Linked DNA regions of Homo sapiens: region 1 is linked to region 2. Evidence: fine-mapped expression QTL. A gene starts in region 2. The other region holds a variant in brackets. All regions are shown on one strand. Distances are from middle to middle.

Region 1 (8,347 bases), 420 kb before region 2:
ACCCTACACTCAGACAATGACAGTATTTTTATTTATTATTAGCAATTTTTCCTCTATAACAAACCACTTAATTACCAATTTGACACTCAGAACACTTCTACCGAGCCGCAATGAAGTGCTTTGGAACAACCAACGCAAAGGCATCAGTCACTGTTTTCAACAAACACAGGAAATTTTAGATAATTTCAGGGATTTGATCCTGTTTACCCTAGCCAGGTGTGTGTGCCTGTGCATGGATATGCCTGGTCTGTATGTGAGTGTGTGCTTTGCATGTGGGTTACTGAAGCATGCACTGCAAAATATAGCTCCAAAACTTGTGAAGGAGTAGCACTTCCATGATCCCTTCAGAGGAAAGTGCAGGATTTGACCTATGGGTCAATTACCAGCCAAAAAACACTCTGTGTTATCTAATAGGTAACACATAATGACACTTATCCAAAAAATCTGTAGATTTCTTTTTGTTGAGTGGAAACATGTTGTATTTATTAAAGTAAGACTTTTGTTTTTTTATTAAAACTAATTTTTACTTTATGATAATATGTCACATTGTTTAGCCTCCATTCCTGTGAGCGCAGAAAAAGGTAAAAAACATACTTTTCATTACAAACTATAACTAAAAGATAAATCTGTCTGACCACTTTTACAATTTTTGCTTATACGCCACTATGCTCAATATTTTTTCCTTAAGAATCAATGATCCAGTTGAGTCTTGATTTCAACTTAAGGCCATCCATTAGAGAGAGTTAAGAGCCTGAAAAGGGTCAGCCTTTTCTGTCTCTATTAGTCTAGGTAGCTTTCGTCTCTAATGGAATCCTTTCGATAATTATTTCATACTTCTGGCAAATCTTGATGGACTCCATTCACCTCAATGCTACCTCTGCAGATCATTCAAAAGCTTCTATTAGGACATCTTAGAGAAACCTCCTTTTTGCTTTATACTCAAATAAAAGAAGTAAAAAACTAAACTTCAAGAGGGGCCATGCTTTTCAGTGTAATCACAATACTTTCCAGTCTGAACAAGAGGCATCAGCTATTCTTTCCCTTTTGAAAGCATTTTGACCAGGTGGAAGGATTTTAAGCATATATACCAGAACACACATATCTTGGTCCAATTCAAGAGCCATAGAAAATATCTTCATACTTATTTGCATATGTTTTTTTTCACTATTAATGTTTAGGAAATATGAGCTTCGTCTCTTTATCAATGACAGTACTTTTCAATGGAAGAAAAAATGATCAATAACTGTAACAATATATTATGACTAATTTGCTAAAATTGATTTTTTAAAAATCAAGTTACAATCTGGGATACCTACTTATTTTTGGAATGTATCACATACCTCCTTTAAAATAGAGCTCCTTCCTAATTGTATTTTGCTTAGTTACTTATAAACATCAGCTTTAATTCCCTAAGCAAAAAACAGCTGGATGATAGGTGAAAGCTGGTTGAAGATTAAGAATTTGCTGTAGGCTTTACACAGAGCAGCTAATAGTCACTTGAAGAATCAAGTGCTGAACGTATTAAGTGATTCTGCCTGCCATTTCTTTATTAGATCTACTTTAAATGGAACTCTGTGGGCCCGCTTGAAGCAGAGTGGGCTCTCTTAAACTCTGAAAAATCTATCTGCTGCAGAAACAGGGAAGGGTCCTCTTTTGGTGCCTAGTCATGGTGGAGAATACGGGAATCCATCAACACTTGCTCGGTACCCTCCATCCCAACACCTTCTACAAGATATTTAACGTGGCTTCCAAGCATATATGTAATGTGAGAGGTACAGCATCTATGGTAGTTAATCACTACCATTTTGAATATTTAGGTTGTTTTTGAATTTTTGCTAACATAAGTCACCTTATAATGAACATCCTTGTAGCTTAATCCTTAAATGTATTAATGGTCAAATATATTAATGGTACATTTAAGGGTTAAGAAAGGTAAGGCACAGGAAGAATAAAGATTGAACAGTAATAAGGCCAAGGGTGAGCTGCACGCACAGGAAAGCATAACCTAGTATACCAGAGTCAACAGGGGTGCTGCTTCGTGCCACAAGCTAAGGAGGAAGCATGGTCAGGTACAAGATTCATAATATCCATAAGGTTAAGGGGAAAAAGGAGAGCCTCTTTAATAAAGTGCCTACTGTGTAACAAATACTGCTATATGAGCAACTGAGAGACATCAAATTAAAATTATTTATACATAGTTGAAGTACACATATTGTTTTATAGACTTCTAAAACTTTAAAATAATCATAAACTATAAGGAATTGCAAATATATCTGTGTGCAGATGAGTGGATTAAAAATAATAAAAAATAAAAAGAAATTGCAAAAATAGTACAAAGAGTCCAATATATCCTTCACCCTGCTTCCCCAATTGGCTACATTTTATTTTATTTTATTTTTATTTCGAGACAGAGTCTTGCTCTGTCCCCCATGCTGGAGTGCAGTGGCACTGATCTCAGCTCACCGTAACCTCCACCTCCTGGGTTCAAGCTATTCTTGTGCCTCTGCCTCCCAAGTAACTGGGATTACAGGCACGCACCACCAGGCCCAGCTAATTTTTGTATTTTTAGTAGAGACAGGGTTTCGCCACGTTGGCCAGACTGGTCTTGAACTCCTGACCTCAATTGAGCCAGCTGCCTCAGCCTCCCAAAGTGCTGGGATTACAGGCATGAGCCACCGCCAGGCTGGCTACATTTTATGTAAATGTAGTACAGTATCAAAAGCAGAAAACTGACATTTGCACAGTACCTTTAACTACATTACAGGCTTTGTTCAGAATTCACAGCGTTTACCTCTGTGTATGTGTTTGTCTCTGTGTAGTTTCATGCAATTTTTTTTATTATAGTTTAAGTTCTGGGATACATGTGCAGAACGTGCAGGTTTGTAACATAGGTATACATGTGTCATGGTGGTTTGCTGCACCCATCAACCTGTTATCTACATTAGGTATTTCTTCTAATGCTATCCCTCCCCTAGCCCCCCACTCCCAACAGGCCCCAGTGTGTGATGTTCCCCTCCCTGTGTCCATGTGTTCTCATTGTTCAACTCCCACTTATGAGTGAGAACATGCAGTGTTTGGTTTTCTGTTCCTGTGTGAGTTTGCTGAGAATGGTGGTTTCCAGCTTCATCCATGTCCCTGCAAAGGACATGAACTCCTCCTTTTTTATGGCTGTATAGTATTCAATGGTGTGTATGTGCCACATTTTCTTTAACCAGTATATCATTGATGGGCATTTGGGTTGGTTCCAAGTTTTTGCTTTTGTGAATAGTGCTGCAATACCCCATCAAAAAGCGGGTGAAGGATATGAACAGACACTTCTCAAACGAAAACATTTATTCAGCCAACAAACATATGAAAAAAAAAGCTCATCATCACTTGTCATTAGAGAAATACAATTTTATATATATATATGTAACCACTACATATATGTATACATAAGATATATGTATATATAAATATATATTTTTATATATATGTATATATTTATATGTGTATATATACATATACACATATATATACATACATATATATGTATATACACACATATATACATACTTATATATGTATATACACACATATATACATACTTATATATGTATATACACACATATATACATACATATGTATGTATATACACATATATACATACATATATATGTATATACACATATATACATACATATATATGTATATACACATATATACATACATATATATGTATATACACATATGTATGTATATATGCGCGTATATACATATATATTGTTATTTATATATGCATATATATAAATAACAATATATATAAATATACATTTATATATATATATATATATATATATATATATATGTAACCACTACAATGATGAAAATACCCAGCTATTATATCACCACCAAGCCCTTGGTGTTATCTCTTTATAGTCACACTCATTTCCCTTCCTTCTTCTGCCGCATCTTTAAATCCCGGCAATCATTCATCTGCTTTCCATCTCTGTAATGCTGTCATTGTGTGAATGTTATATAGGTGGAATCATGCATGTGTAACCTTTTTAGACTGGCTTTTTCACTCACTATAATTCCCTTGAGATCCATCTAAATTGCTGTATCAGTAGTTCATTCCTTTAATTGCTGAAGAGTATTTCATGGTACAGACAGATCACAGTTTGTTTAACCATTCATTGCCAAAGGATATTTGGATTGTTTCCAGTTTTTAACTATTACAAACAAAATTGTTATGAACAACCACGTACAGGTTTTTGGGTGGACACAAGTTTGTTTGTCTGTTTTTTGAAACAGGGTCTTGCTCCAGGATATAAGTTGTTATTTCTCTGGGATAAATGCCTAGGAATGCAATTGCTAGATTGTATGGTAAGTGCATATCAAAAGTTTTCATTATTAAGAAACTGCCAAGCTGTTTTCCAGAGTGACTGTACCATTTTTTAACTTCCAACAGCAATGTATGAGTGGTTCAGTGTCTCCCTGTCCTTGCCAACATTGCTACTATTATCAGTTTTTATTTTAGCTATACTGATAGGTTTACAGTAACATCTCATTATGGCTTTGTATTTCCTAATGGCCAATAATGTTGAACATCTTTTTGTGTATT[T/C]ATTTACCATCTCCATCTCCTCTTTAATAAAACGTCTATTCATGTGTTTTGCCCATTTTCTAATTAGATTTTTGTTTTTATAATTTTTTATGTCTTGCTGAGTTTTGAGAATTCTTTACTCTAGATTCAATTCCTTTGTCAGATATGTGGTTGGCACTTTTTCCCAGCCTGTAGTTTGTCTTTTTATTCTCCTCTCAGAGACTTTTGTAGAGCATGAAGTTTTAATTTTGACACAGCCCAAAATGTCAGTTTTTCTTCTCTTCTCCATACAATTTCATATATAAGAAATCTTCAGTCATATATAAAGACTCTTGACTCTGTCACTAGGCCCAAAAGATTTTCTTCTACATGTTTTCTAGTTTTATGTCTTACATTTAAATCTATGATCCATTATGAAGTAATTATTATATAAAATAATTTTACACAATAATTTTAACTTTATTATTAAATAATTTTAACTATTTATTTTATTCTTTGCCTATGGATGCCCAATTGCTGCAGCATCATATGTTGAAAAGACTATTCTTTCATTAAATTGCTTTTGCGCCTTTGTAAAAAAAAATCCGTTGGACATATTTATGTGGGCCTATTTATGGTTTTTCTATTCTTTCATATGATTTTTGCTCAATTAAAAAATACCGTAAACTTGTTTCCACCAACAATTTCAATATAATTTTAGCTAGTGCAAAGCATGTCACGGGTTGGACATAATCATGATGTAGTTAACCACTACTATTTTGAATATTTAGGTTATTTTTTAATTTTTGCTAACATAAGTCACCTTATAATGAACATCCTTGTAGCTTAATCTTTGAATATATTAATGATAATTTCTTGGGATTTCTAGAAGTAAACTTGCATAAAGAGTGTACAGCTTTTTAGAAAATGAGCTATTTTGGACAATAGTTAGGGGTCAGCCTACTTTTTAAATGTGGGGATTTTTCATTTTTCTTTTGAGACAGAGTGTCACACTGTCACCCAGGCTGGAGTGCAGTGGCATGATCTTGGCTCACTGCAAACTCCACCTCCCAGGTTGAAGCTATTCTCCTGCCTCAGCCTCCCAAATAGCTGGGATTACAGGTGCATGCCACCACACCTGGCTAATTTTTGTATTTTTAGTAGACACAAGGTTTCATCATATTGGCTAGGCTGGTCTCGAACTTCTGAACTCAGGTGATCCACCCTCCTCCGCCACCCAAAGTGCTGGGATTACAGGTGTGAGCCACCACACCCGGCCTAAAATGTGTTTTTAAAAACATCTGTATATAAAATGAACTTAGGTGTAAAGGGAAAATAGATGAATAAAGTACTATAGCCAGAAAGCTACTCATTGCTATAGATGTAAGATTGTTTTTCACATCTGTTAAAAATCAATGAATAAGTCAGATTTCTCAGAGCAGTCTGCTGCAGGGTAAAGGGGAGTTTCTACCACCCCTGCAACATACTATAATGTAATTGCTTAAATGCCCAGATACTCCATAGAGAAAGCTGAATAAATGTGCTTCAGGAAGTTGAACTTGAAAGTAGATTAGTGTTCATTATCTACAGTCAATATTTTTATTCAAGAACATTTAACTAGCCTAGCACAGGGCACATGCCCAATATTAATAGAAGACAGGGTGTGGTAAGTCCTACGAGTGAGTCAGAGTTCAACAGGAAAAGAAGAGAGAGAAAGATGAATCTTGACTTTGTACATGTAGAAAAGTCTCTTGAGAATAGAGTATCTGTGTGGGGCCTGAATGTGGCTCAGGCAGACAGAATATGGGAAATGCATTCTAGAAAGAGACAAAGATGTGGCAGCTGAGAAGTGAGCACACGGCTGTGTTGCTCCACGAATGTGCACGTACTGGGAGGGAAAGAGAGATGTTTGGAGATAGTTTTGGAAAGACGGGCTTGAGAAAAGACGTGCCTCAAGCAGGAAACCGGAATGTCAAGTAGAAGCAGTAACTTTTATTCAAATAAGAAAGCTCTTGAAGTTTTGACATAGGAACAGGTGACCAGAGCTGCTCTTAAAAAAGACAAAATTCTGGCTACAGTGTTTGAACAGCCTGGACTGGGAGAAAGACCAGAGGCTGCAAGTCTGCTGAGGAAGCAACTGCCTAAGTTTAGGGAGAAGATATCCAGCTCCAAACTCTGACAGGGGATGTGCGGGCAGATTAATGCTTGTGAGCCTATATTTCTAGAGGCAGGTGCATCATTGCTTGAAACACATTTTTTTGTTCCCCCATGATTTGGAGAGGTAAAAGGGAAAGCTGGAGTCTGTGATGGTCAAGAGAAAGGACTCTAGTTCCAAAATGCCTGGTCCCTGGTCCAGGAACCTGTATCTGCTGGCTGTATAACCCCTAGTAAGTGACTTTATCCTTCCTGTGTCTTGGTATCCTCAATTGTAGAAAGGGGATGATAGTATTCATTTCATTGTGTTGTTGGGGGGATTAAATAAATCTATGGATGTCAAGTGTGCCAAGTGTGTAGAACAGTATGTGGCACATGTTGTTCACCATTACTCTTTTTGTGATTATTTTTGAGCTATTTCGGGAGAAGAGGTTTGTGGTCATATTTGCCTGACAAGGGGAAGAAAGGATGGAGTTAGAAGAGCAGAGGAAGAGGAATATCTAACAACGATGCTTCTTCCCTTCCAATGTGCACGCATATCACCTGGGTATTATGTTAACATGCAGACTCTGATTCAGTAGGTCTGGGGTAAGAACTGAGTTTGTGCATTTCTAACAAGGTCCCAGCTGATGTGCAAGAATCTGAGAGCTCCTTCACTACCTTACTTACCTCTCCTACCCTCTCCCCTCCAGGCTCATTTTGAACCCTGGATATTAGGAGGATTGCAGCCCTTATTGTCCTAACATTGCATTCAAGGAAACTTCTCCTTTTGCAACAATCATTATAAAATGATTCTTACTGTATATTACAGGCCCTTTACATTCTTTATCTCAAGTCCTCATAACAAGCCTTGGGCCAGGCGTGGTGGCTCATGCCTGTAATCTCAGCACTTTTGCGATCACTTGAGGTCAGGAGTTTGAGACCAGCCTGGCCAACATGGTGAAACCCCGTCTCTACTAAAAATACAGGAAAAAACAAAAAATTAGCCAGGCTTGGTGGTGCACGCCTGTAATCCCAGCTACGTGGCAGGCTGAGGCAGAAGAATCGCTTGAACACGGGAGACAGAGGTTGCAGTGAGCCGAGATCATGCCACTGCACTCCAGCCTGAGTGACAGGGCGACACTCTGTCAAAAAAAAAAAAAAAAAAAAGCCTTGTAAGGGTAAGATGCTATAAGCCTCATTTTACTGATGAAGAAACTTGGAGAGGTAAAGTAACACTCTCAAGGCTAAATAGCTCACAAGTGGCAAAGCCAGAATTTAAACCCAGGATTTTCTCATATGCTATGCTAGTTCCCAGGTGATGTGCCTTCCATAAAGACTCCAGAGAGGGCACACTGAGAAGCAGAAGTGGGAGAGGAAAGAGTGGAGGGTGTGTGTCCTGCCTCCGGCCGTGAAGTTACTCCTGCTCTATCCTGGCTGTTTATGGAGATCTCTTGTAGGCCTATAAATCCGAAGTTCCCAGGATTTACTGCTAGCCACACCCATCTCCCCACAGAGTCCTGTTTAGCCAGATCTTGGTTATTCTGAAGCAGGATCTTTTTTGGTAAGGTATTTCCCAAGAGTTTTAGATCATTTTTCAGAACACTTTATAAAAAATGGAAAGAGTTATGGTTATTAATTAAGAGAACTAAA
Region 2 (8,347 bases):
ACTTTCATTCCCATCACACCACAGAAATTCTCATGAATATGATCTCCGATAGTCAATTCTCAATTCTTTATTATTTGACTACTAGCAACATTTGTTTGTTTGCTTGTTTTGCTTTTTGGTTTCCAAAGGCTCTCCCTCAGAAGAATATTAGCAGCATTTGACACAGTTAATCACTCCTTCCTCCATTGAACACTTTCTTCACTTGGCTACCAAGACACCACACTTACCTGGTTTATGCCTACCCTTTTTCAGTCTATTAAATAATTTTCTCTTTTTTTCCTCATGTCCCCAGATTCCAAACACAGGTGTATCCCAAAACACAGTTCTTATTCCTCTTCTTTCTGTCTCCACTCATGCAAAGATGACTTTACCTGTTCCATGGGCTGATGACTCCCAAACCTCTCTTTTGACACCAGAGTTGTATGTCCAACTGCCTATTGGACAGCACTACTTGGATATCTCATTGGCATTTCAAACTTAACATGGCAAAAGCCTTCCACTTCCTGCTTGCTCTTCCTGAAGTTTTTCTAGTTCCATTCAGCGGCAAATCCATCCTTCCAGCTGCTAAAGCCTCAAGCTTTGGAGTCACTCTTGACTTTTCTTTCTCTCACACACTATACCTCATCCATCAGCAAATTTTTTCAGCTATACCTTAAATATATAAGCAGGAGTCCAGCCACTTCACTCTACCACCACTGCTACTATCATTTTTCATTTGAATTATTGCAACGGCCTCTTATTAAAGTCATCATCAAACTGGGCTCAGTGGCTCATGCCTGTAGTCCCAGTAACTTGGGAAGCTAAGAAGGGAGGATCACTTGATGCCAGGAGTTAGAGGCTGCAGTGAGCCATGATCATGCCACTGCACTTCAGCCTGGGGAACAGAGCAAGACTTTGACTCAAAAAAAAAAAATAGCATAAAAATAATAGTCACTATTCATGTTGGAAACAGATGGTACACTGCCTTAGTCTGGGCCGCTATAACAAAATACCATAAACTGGCAGCTTATAAAAACAGAAATTTGTTTCTCAGCGTTCTGGAAAGCTGGGAAGTTTGAGTGAGGTCCTAACTGATTTGGTGTCTGATGAGGGCCCATTTCTTCATAGACAGCCATCTTTTCACCCTTAAGTCCAAGACAAAGGCAGCATGTGTGTCTGGTAAGGGCCCTTTCTGTTTCACAGACAGTTCCTTCTCACTGTGTTCTCACAGGGTGGAAGGGGTGAGGGTCTCTCTCGTGCCTCTTTATGAAGGCGCTAATCTGATTCACAAGGGCTCTACCATTATGATCTAATCACTTCCCAAAGGCCCCATCTCCTTATACCATCGCATTGGTTATTAGCTTTGAACATATTAATTTGGGGGAAGACAAACATTCACACCACGGCCAAATGGAGAGTTTAATAAGAGGACTGTTTACAAAGATGTGGACAGGATTAAGGGAAACTGGCACAAAATGTTCCAGTGCCCTGTGCCTAGCAAGCAGGGGCCAGTAGCAAAGGCATGACTATACTTAAATGTGAAGGAGCAACAGGAAGGAGTAATGACCAGAACACTTGCACACAACAGGAGCTGTATTCTTCAGCAGACCAATTCAGTCAGCTTACAACAATCACCAGAAAGTGAGAGGTAGAAATAAAAACCATGAATTCACTTTCCTCCTGCCTTCTGATCTCCTGATCACAGACCTAAATGAACCCTAAGCCAGAAAACGAGAGAGCTGCTCATGGATACAGTTCATTAAGGTCACCCTCCTAACCTTTCTGTTCCTCTGGAGCACAGAGCAGGAAAAAAAGGTAGAGAGAGGATCTGGGGAAAAGCAAAATACATCCAGCAATATAGCAAAGCAATATAGCAATATAGTGAAGTAAATGTTACTTTCACAGGGTGAAATGAAACAATCTATGTAAAGCATTTAGTACAATGTCTGGCGTATGGCTTTTAGTTGGTGGGGGAACCCCTTATTTGCCTGGCATTATAGTTCCAAGTGTGGATTTTTGCAGTGATAATTTCCAAACTTTAGGTGATGATCAATTAGTGGGCTGTGAGTTTAGTAGGTTTTCTAGCACTTATTTTTTTAAGAAACAGAAAAGACCAGCATGCATTTCATGAAGTAAGGATAAGTATTATCTCATAAATAAATCTACTATGTATATCTGTGCGTGCAAGTATGTATTTGCTCCTTGGGTCACAGTGTAAAATATATTTCTTACTAAGGATGACAGTCAAAAAATGTTTGAAAGCCACAGTGCAAGAACACTCTTAGCTACCGCTCTCAACTCTCACTTATTTCTTCCCAAGGAGAAGTGACTTACCTGATTTAAAAATTTGGGATGAGAAACTAAGAAGATGTGCTTGAGTCCTTTCTCATTCTTTTGTCCCTACCCCCTCTTTTGTCTTTTATTACTTTCTATAGTAAACTAAATAATGTGTTCCAAAGATTTCAGGTCCTAATACTTGGAACCTGTGAATGTTACCTTATATGGCAAAGTGTTGGAAACTATGATTAAGTTAAGGATCTTAAGAAGGGGAGATTATCCTGGATTATCTGGGTAGCTGGTAAATGCAATTACATATATCCTTTAAGAGGAAACCAGAAGGAGATTTTACAAACAGAAGAGAAGGACAATGTGAAGATGGAAAAGTTGGAGCAGAGTGAGATTTCAAGATGCTGGCTTACAAGACTGCAGTGATTCAGTCACAAGTCAAGGAATGCTGGCAGTCACCAGAAGCTAGAAGAAATGAGGAATGATTATCCATTCATCAGTCAGTGGACATTTAAAAAGATTACTTTTCAAGGCTGTTTCTAGGATCTTGGCAGGTAGGTAAGAGGCAACCAGACTTAAGATTCATGAGTGAGGTATCATGAGAATGAGGAAGGCTTCTACACTCCAATTTGCACTCTGGCTTCCCTCATAATAATAGCCCCACACTGAGTGATGACCATAAGCAGAACACAATATGTGCATAATCTCTACGTTCACAAAAACTCGGCAAGGTAGTTATCATTACCTTCATTTTACAAATGAGGAAGAAACTCAATCAGAAATAACTTTTCCAAGTCACAGTATTAGTAAGTGACAGAGCCAGGTTACCTCCAGTTTGATCTGCCACCAAAAAAAGAGCTATCTCCAGCTCAACAAAATGTCTTGCTGTGTTGCTACTCCCAATTTCCTGAGTCTGGGTTTTGTAAAGTCTCAAAGCTAATTAGAGTCTACTGTAAATCTATTCCTCCAGAAACTGCATTACACAGTTTGTACATACCAAAAATATGCATAATAAATTTTTCCAGATAGCATTCTAGCTTGTTGATGCCAATTTGGTCCCAAGGTCTTATGCCTCACTTGATTATTTATTTTGTAATTGTTGGGTAAAAACCAGATAAAAGAGAGGCAAAAGAGGAAGTTATAAACTTAATGCTAGTGTCTTAGTGCTGGATGTCACCTTAAATCATGTGTTGACAATAAATTACATCACAAAAACCTTAGCGCTAGAAGAGCTCTTGGATTATCAAATGCAAACTGCTTTTACAGATGAGGAAAACAAACCCAAAAATTTTGCATATTTGTTTAATAACTAACAAACTCATCAAAGCAGAATTGCATTGCAATGTAAACGGATATTTAACACTGTAAATTCTGAGTGGGAAGTAACTCCAAACTTATTTTGATCATGCAAACGTTGCATTGTAAAATTCCATTATTGTCTCCATTATTTTTTTCTTCTCAAGCATTTATGTAGGGATGTATGAAACTGATGTCCACGTAAGGGCAAAATCCAGCCCTACTTTTTATTTTGGGTGAGGAGGAAAACTTTTAAATAGCCCTTTTCAGTTGTAGGATCTTGACATTCCATGTTCAGAATATGAACTGTCTTTAATCCCATTCTACAAAACGAAAACCCAAATATTCACAAAGTCTTGTCAAGTCACATCCTTAAATGAAGTTCTTTTACATTAAAAAATGCTACCGAGCAATCCCTGAAACACAGTGTGGTTGGTTTCATTTGTTTTTCTGGGCATCTCGTTTCCTACACTGGGTTACAACATATTTGTTTGGGTTCGTGGTGGAAATGTCACAGCATGTTTAACTACATTCATTACCCTTGACAATTATTAACATAAAATAAAGGCAAAACGAGGTGCTAAGATGTAGGGGGAAAAAATCGGTCTGAGTAAGGCTGCCCATGCCCTTCCCTGCAAGAATTTCCAAATACCCACCGCCCAGGAGCAAAGGACAGAAAACACAGAGAAGCCCCACCCCTACACCCAGAAATAAAGAGATCCGCCCACCCTTCAACCAACCCGAAGTCGCTTTCTCCGCTCTGTCCACTGCTTGAGCGACTTTCCTTCTCCTCCGCGTCCCCTTTTACGACAGTTTTCCGGCCTAGTTTGCGGCTGCTCCTGCCGTGTTGCGTAGGGCGCCTGTGCTTGAGGTTGGGGGTTGCGTCGCTCTCTGGTAAAGGCGTGCAGGTGTTGGCCGCGGCCTCTGAGCTGGGATGAGCCGTGCTCCCGGTGGAAGCAAGGGAGCCCAGCCGGAGCCATGGTGAGTGCGGCCTTCCGGTCTTCTTGGCGACCTCCGGCCCAGGCCTCAACCTCAGCTCCCCGCCTCGGAGGTGTGGAGTTGAAGTTGTGCTCCTTAGTGCGACTGCGGGCGGGAGGTTTCGGTTATTGGGGAGTCACACTCACCAGGACACAACCCTGTTGGCTCGCTCTCTTGGGGGTTTGTGTTTTTACATCGTCTTTCTGCACGGTTCTCCAGCTTCTTGTCCGCACGGGCTCTGCAGGTGTTGCTTGCCTGGAACTCCTGTAAGGTCAGAGGCTGTCATGGACTCGGAGATTAGTGGAAACGTATTTGATTATAAGTGCCCTTGCCCTAACACATCTTCACAGCACTAGCTCCACTTTGCTATGTCCTTCTCTTTGGCTTTTGCTGACAGATGTCTTCTCCATGCTTCCTGAACATATTTGGGCCTGTCTTGTTAGGAAACAACAGGGCAGTGCCAAAGGTATTAGTCTCCTAGTTTAGCCCACGTTTAGCCTCGAAAATGCGTTGTTAGAATTTTACAGGAGCCGTCTGTAAACAGTTTTTCCTTCTGTAGCAGAAACCTTATTTCCACATTTTTTTTTTTTTTTTTGAGACAGAGTCTTGCTCGGTCGCCTAGGCTGGAGTGCAGTGGCACAATCTTGGCTCACTACAAGCTCCGCCTCCCGGGTTCGCCATTCTCCTGCCTCAGCCTCCCAAGTAGCTGGGATTACAGGCGCCCACCACCACGCCCAGCTAATTTTTTTTTTTTTTGTATTTTTAGTAGAGACGGGGTTTCACCATGGTAGCCAGGATGGTCTCGATCTCCCGACCTAGTGATACGCCCGCCTCGCCTCCCAAAATGCTGGAATTACAGGCGTGAGCCACCGCGCCTGGCCTATTTCCACTACTTTTGATTGAACTTTAATGTGACTTAATTTGTCTGGTGATGAAAGAAGTTTTCAAAGGGAGGGAATCATCTTTTTCACTATTGTAAAGATAAATAAGCAAGTCGAACTTGCCCTCTTTCCCATATGATGAATCCTGTAACTTTAATGCATTCAGCATAACAGATGCAGTAGTTTTAAAGATTACTGGACAGAATATTTCCGCCTTAAAAGTTGTTTCTCTGCCAGGCATGGTGGCTTATGCCTATAATCTTAGCACTTTGGGAGGCCAAGGTGGGAGGATTGCTTGAGGCCAGGAGTTCAAGACCAGCCTAAGCAACATAGCAAGACTCCGTCTCTTAAAAAAAAAAAAAAAAAAAGAAAAAAAAAAGTTGTTTCTCCTATTAAAATGCAGTTTGTAATGAGTTGGGGATGGAAGAATGGGCAAAATGAGAAAGGGTGGGAATTAGAGAAGTAAATATTTACTCTTCTCCCCCTTACCAGGCCAGTACAGTGGTAGCAGTTGGACTGACCATTGCTGCTGCAGGATTTGCAGGTTTGTTTATGGTTTGGGGATGGAAGTGAAGTCGGGGAGATTGGAGATTTAGTTTACTTATTCTGTTGCTTTTGGTTTTAGGCCGTTACGTTTTGCAAGCCATGAAGCATATGGAGCCTCAAGTAAAACAAGTTTTTCAAAGCCTACCAAAATCTGTAAGACTTTGTTAATTCTTTGCTGCTTCTATTTGAAACCTAGAGCCACACTTAGGGAAGGGTAAATTTCCAAATATCCATGAAGTTCTAAGTGATTGCTTTGGACCCATTCTCCTGCTTCCTGCAAGGAGAGTATAGAAGTTCTGAACTTTGTGATGGTGCTACCCTGAAACATCAGATGTTATATGTGACAGAGTTGGATGGGGTTTTGACAATTCTAGTACCCCACTAGACCCAAGTTTCACTTTTTCACATACCATCACCTTCAGCATCATCTGTACATATTCTTGTTTTCCTTCATCTGCTCTGCATCGCACACACAGAGGTATATGATTCTAAAGTGATCCGATCTGACCATGTGGCCCTGGCACTCCCAAACATCATACATAGGTAGCACTCTAGTTAATTAGGCTATAGGGTTTGGCTTGATGTTATGGTCATACTCTCTGTGGTCACAGTTAAGAATAGATTTGGCTGTGATCACCTGTTGAATATGTTGTGATTAAGTGTAACAGAATAGAGTGATTGTAGGCTTTACCAATATGATTTCTGACATGGCAAGGTCAGAGGACCTAATAGTGGTATTTTCTGTATATATATCTTAAAGTCTTGTTTCAAATACACTTGAACCTCTTGTCTCAAAAGACTTCTGTTCTTGAGCCACTTCTTGCAGATTTTTATCTAGAATATGGCTAATTTGGAATGATCTTTCCTTTACTCCCGGAAGACCTGGCTTTCAGACACTGTTATTTTGTCTTATATTTCTAAGATAGTTCATATTGACTGGAAAAAAATGAATCTGTTTAATGATCATTAAAATACTACTTGTTGCTACTTATTTATAAACTTTATTCAGCTTTAGCTAAAATACCTCGGGAATTGCACTAAAAGTCCTCTGAAATGTCTTAGTTTTTCTTAGTTCTGTGAATATTTCCAGACGTCTTTTTTAAAGCAACTTTATTTTATTAACCTTTCTTTACAAATGCATTTCTTCTTTCAGGCCTTCAGTGGTGGCTATTATAGAGGTGGGTTTGAACCCAAAATGACAAAACGGGAAGCAGCATTAATACTAGGTGTAAGGTAAAATAATCTCTAATATTTTTAGCATTTTTCTACCACTGTAGAGCCATGAGGAAATATAAGAAAGACCTTCTCTCCTTTAATAGGAGAGGGTCATGGGGGATTTTGTCCTAGGAAGATTGATATTACCAATTCTAATCAATGAAACTGTACTGTTCCTTCATGTTATTTTTAAGATGTAAACAATCCTTCAAATGAGAAGGCACACTAGCACTTAAGCACTTTTTCTTTTTTCCTAGAGTGTTTACTAAAACACAGGCACTTTTTCATTTATTTAAAGATAGACTCCTCAGCAGATTATCACAGTGTTCAGTGTTGTTCTCTGTAACTGACATTTTTTTTGTGGTGAAATTCTGCCTTCAACCGGGCGCGGTGACTCACGTCTGTAATCCCAGCACTTTGGGAGGCCAAGGCCAGTGGATTACTTGAGGTCAGGAGTTCAAGACCAGCCTGGCAAACATGGTGAAACCCCGTCTCTACTTAAAATACAAAAATTAGCCAGGCGTAATGGCACACACCTGTAATCCCAGCTACTCGGAAGGCTGAGGCAGGAGAATCGCTTGAACCCGGGAGGCCGAGGTTGCAGTGAACCAAGATCAAGCCACTGCACTCCAGCCTAGGGGACAGAGTGAGACTATCTCAAAAAAAAAAAAAAACAAAACTCTTCCTTCTTCATTTTCAAATCCTTAAACATGCGTTTCTTATCAATAAAAGGACTGTTGTAATGGGTACTGCAAGTTCAACACATTTTTGAGAGTGCCTTACTTTTCTAAGTAGTTTCCCAATTTAGGATACGCATTGGGTGTGTTGAGGTTTCTAAACAGCTTTTCATACTGTTGTGTTAATTTACTACAGTTTCACAGTGTCTTTAATTGGCCTTTATGTACAGTTTTTTGATGTGATGCAGAAGTAGGATGAAGTAAATACCATTTCTTTTTTTAATTAGCCCTACTGCCAATAAAGGGAAAATAAGAGATGCTCATCGACGAATTATGCTTTTAAATCATCCTGACAAAGGTAAGTAGTCATTAAATTCTCGTTGATGTTGTTGGTGTGACCAATAGTTATTAATGGGATAATTTTATCTCAAATTCCTGGCTATTAGAAAGGTAACACTTAAATCTGTAAGTCCTGTCTCCTAGGCTGGA

The links. PIP is the estimated chance that this variant, and not a neighbour inherited with it, causes the effect.
Region 1: its variant is fine-mapped to the expression of DNAJC19 in testis (GTEx, PIP above 0.99). The same link has a PIP of 0.9 or more in esophagus mucosa, fibroblasts and transverse colon.

The regions. Positions count from the first base shown.
Region 1 is chr3:181,402,345-181,410,691 of GRCh38, reverse strand. All of the region lies in intron 3 of SOX2-OT (SOX2 overlapping transcript), which reads right to left. Among named protein-coding and RNA genes, the nearest start is that of SOX2, 310 kb to the left of the region's middle. The variant T/C (reference allele first, on the strand shown) is at 4,604.
Region 2 is chr3:180,985,795-180,994,141 of GRCh38, reverse strand. DNAJC19 (DnaJ heat shock protein family (Hsp40) member C19) reads left to right here and starts at 4,406. Exons shown (of 6, transcript NM_145261.4): 1 at 4,406-4,542; 2 at 5,913-5,964; 3 at 6,046-6,119; 4 at 7,120-7,199; 5 at 8,146-8,216. The coding sequence starts at 4,540.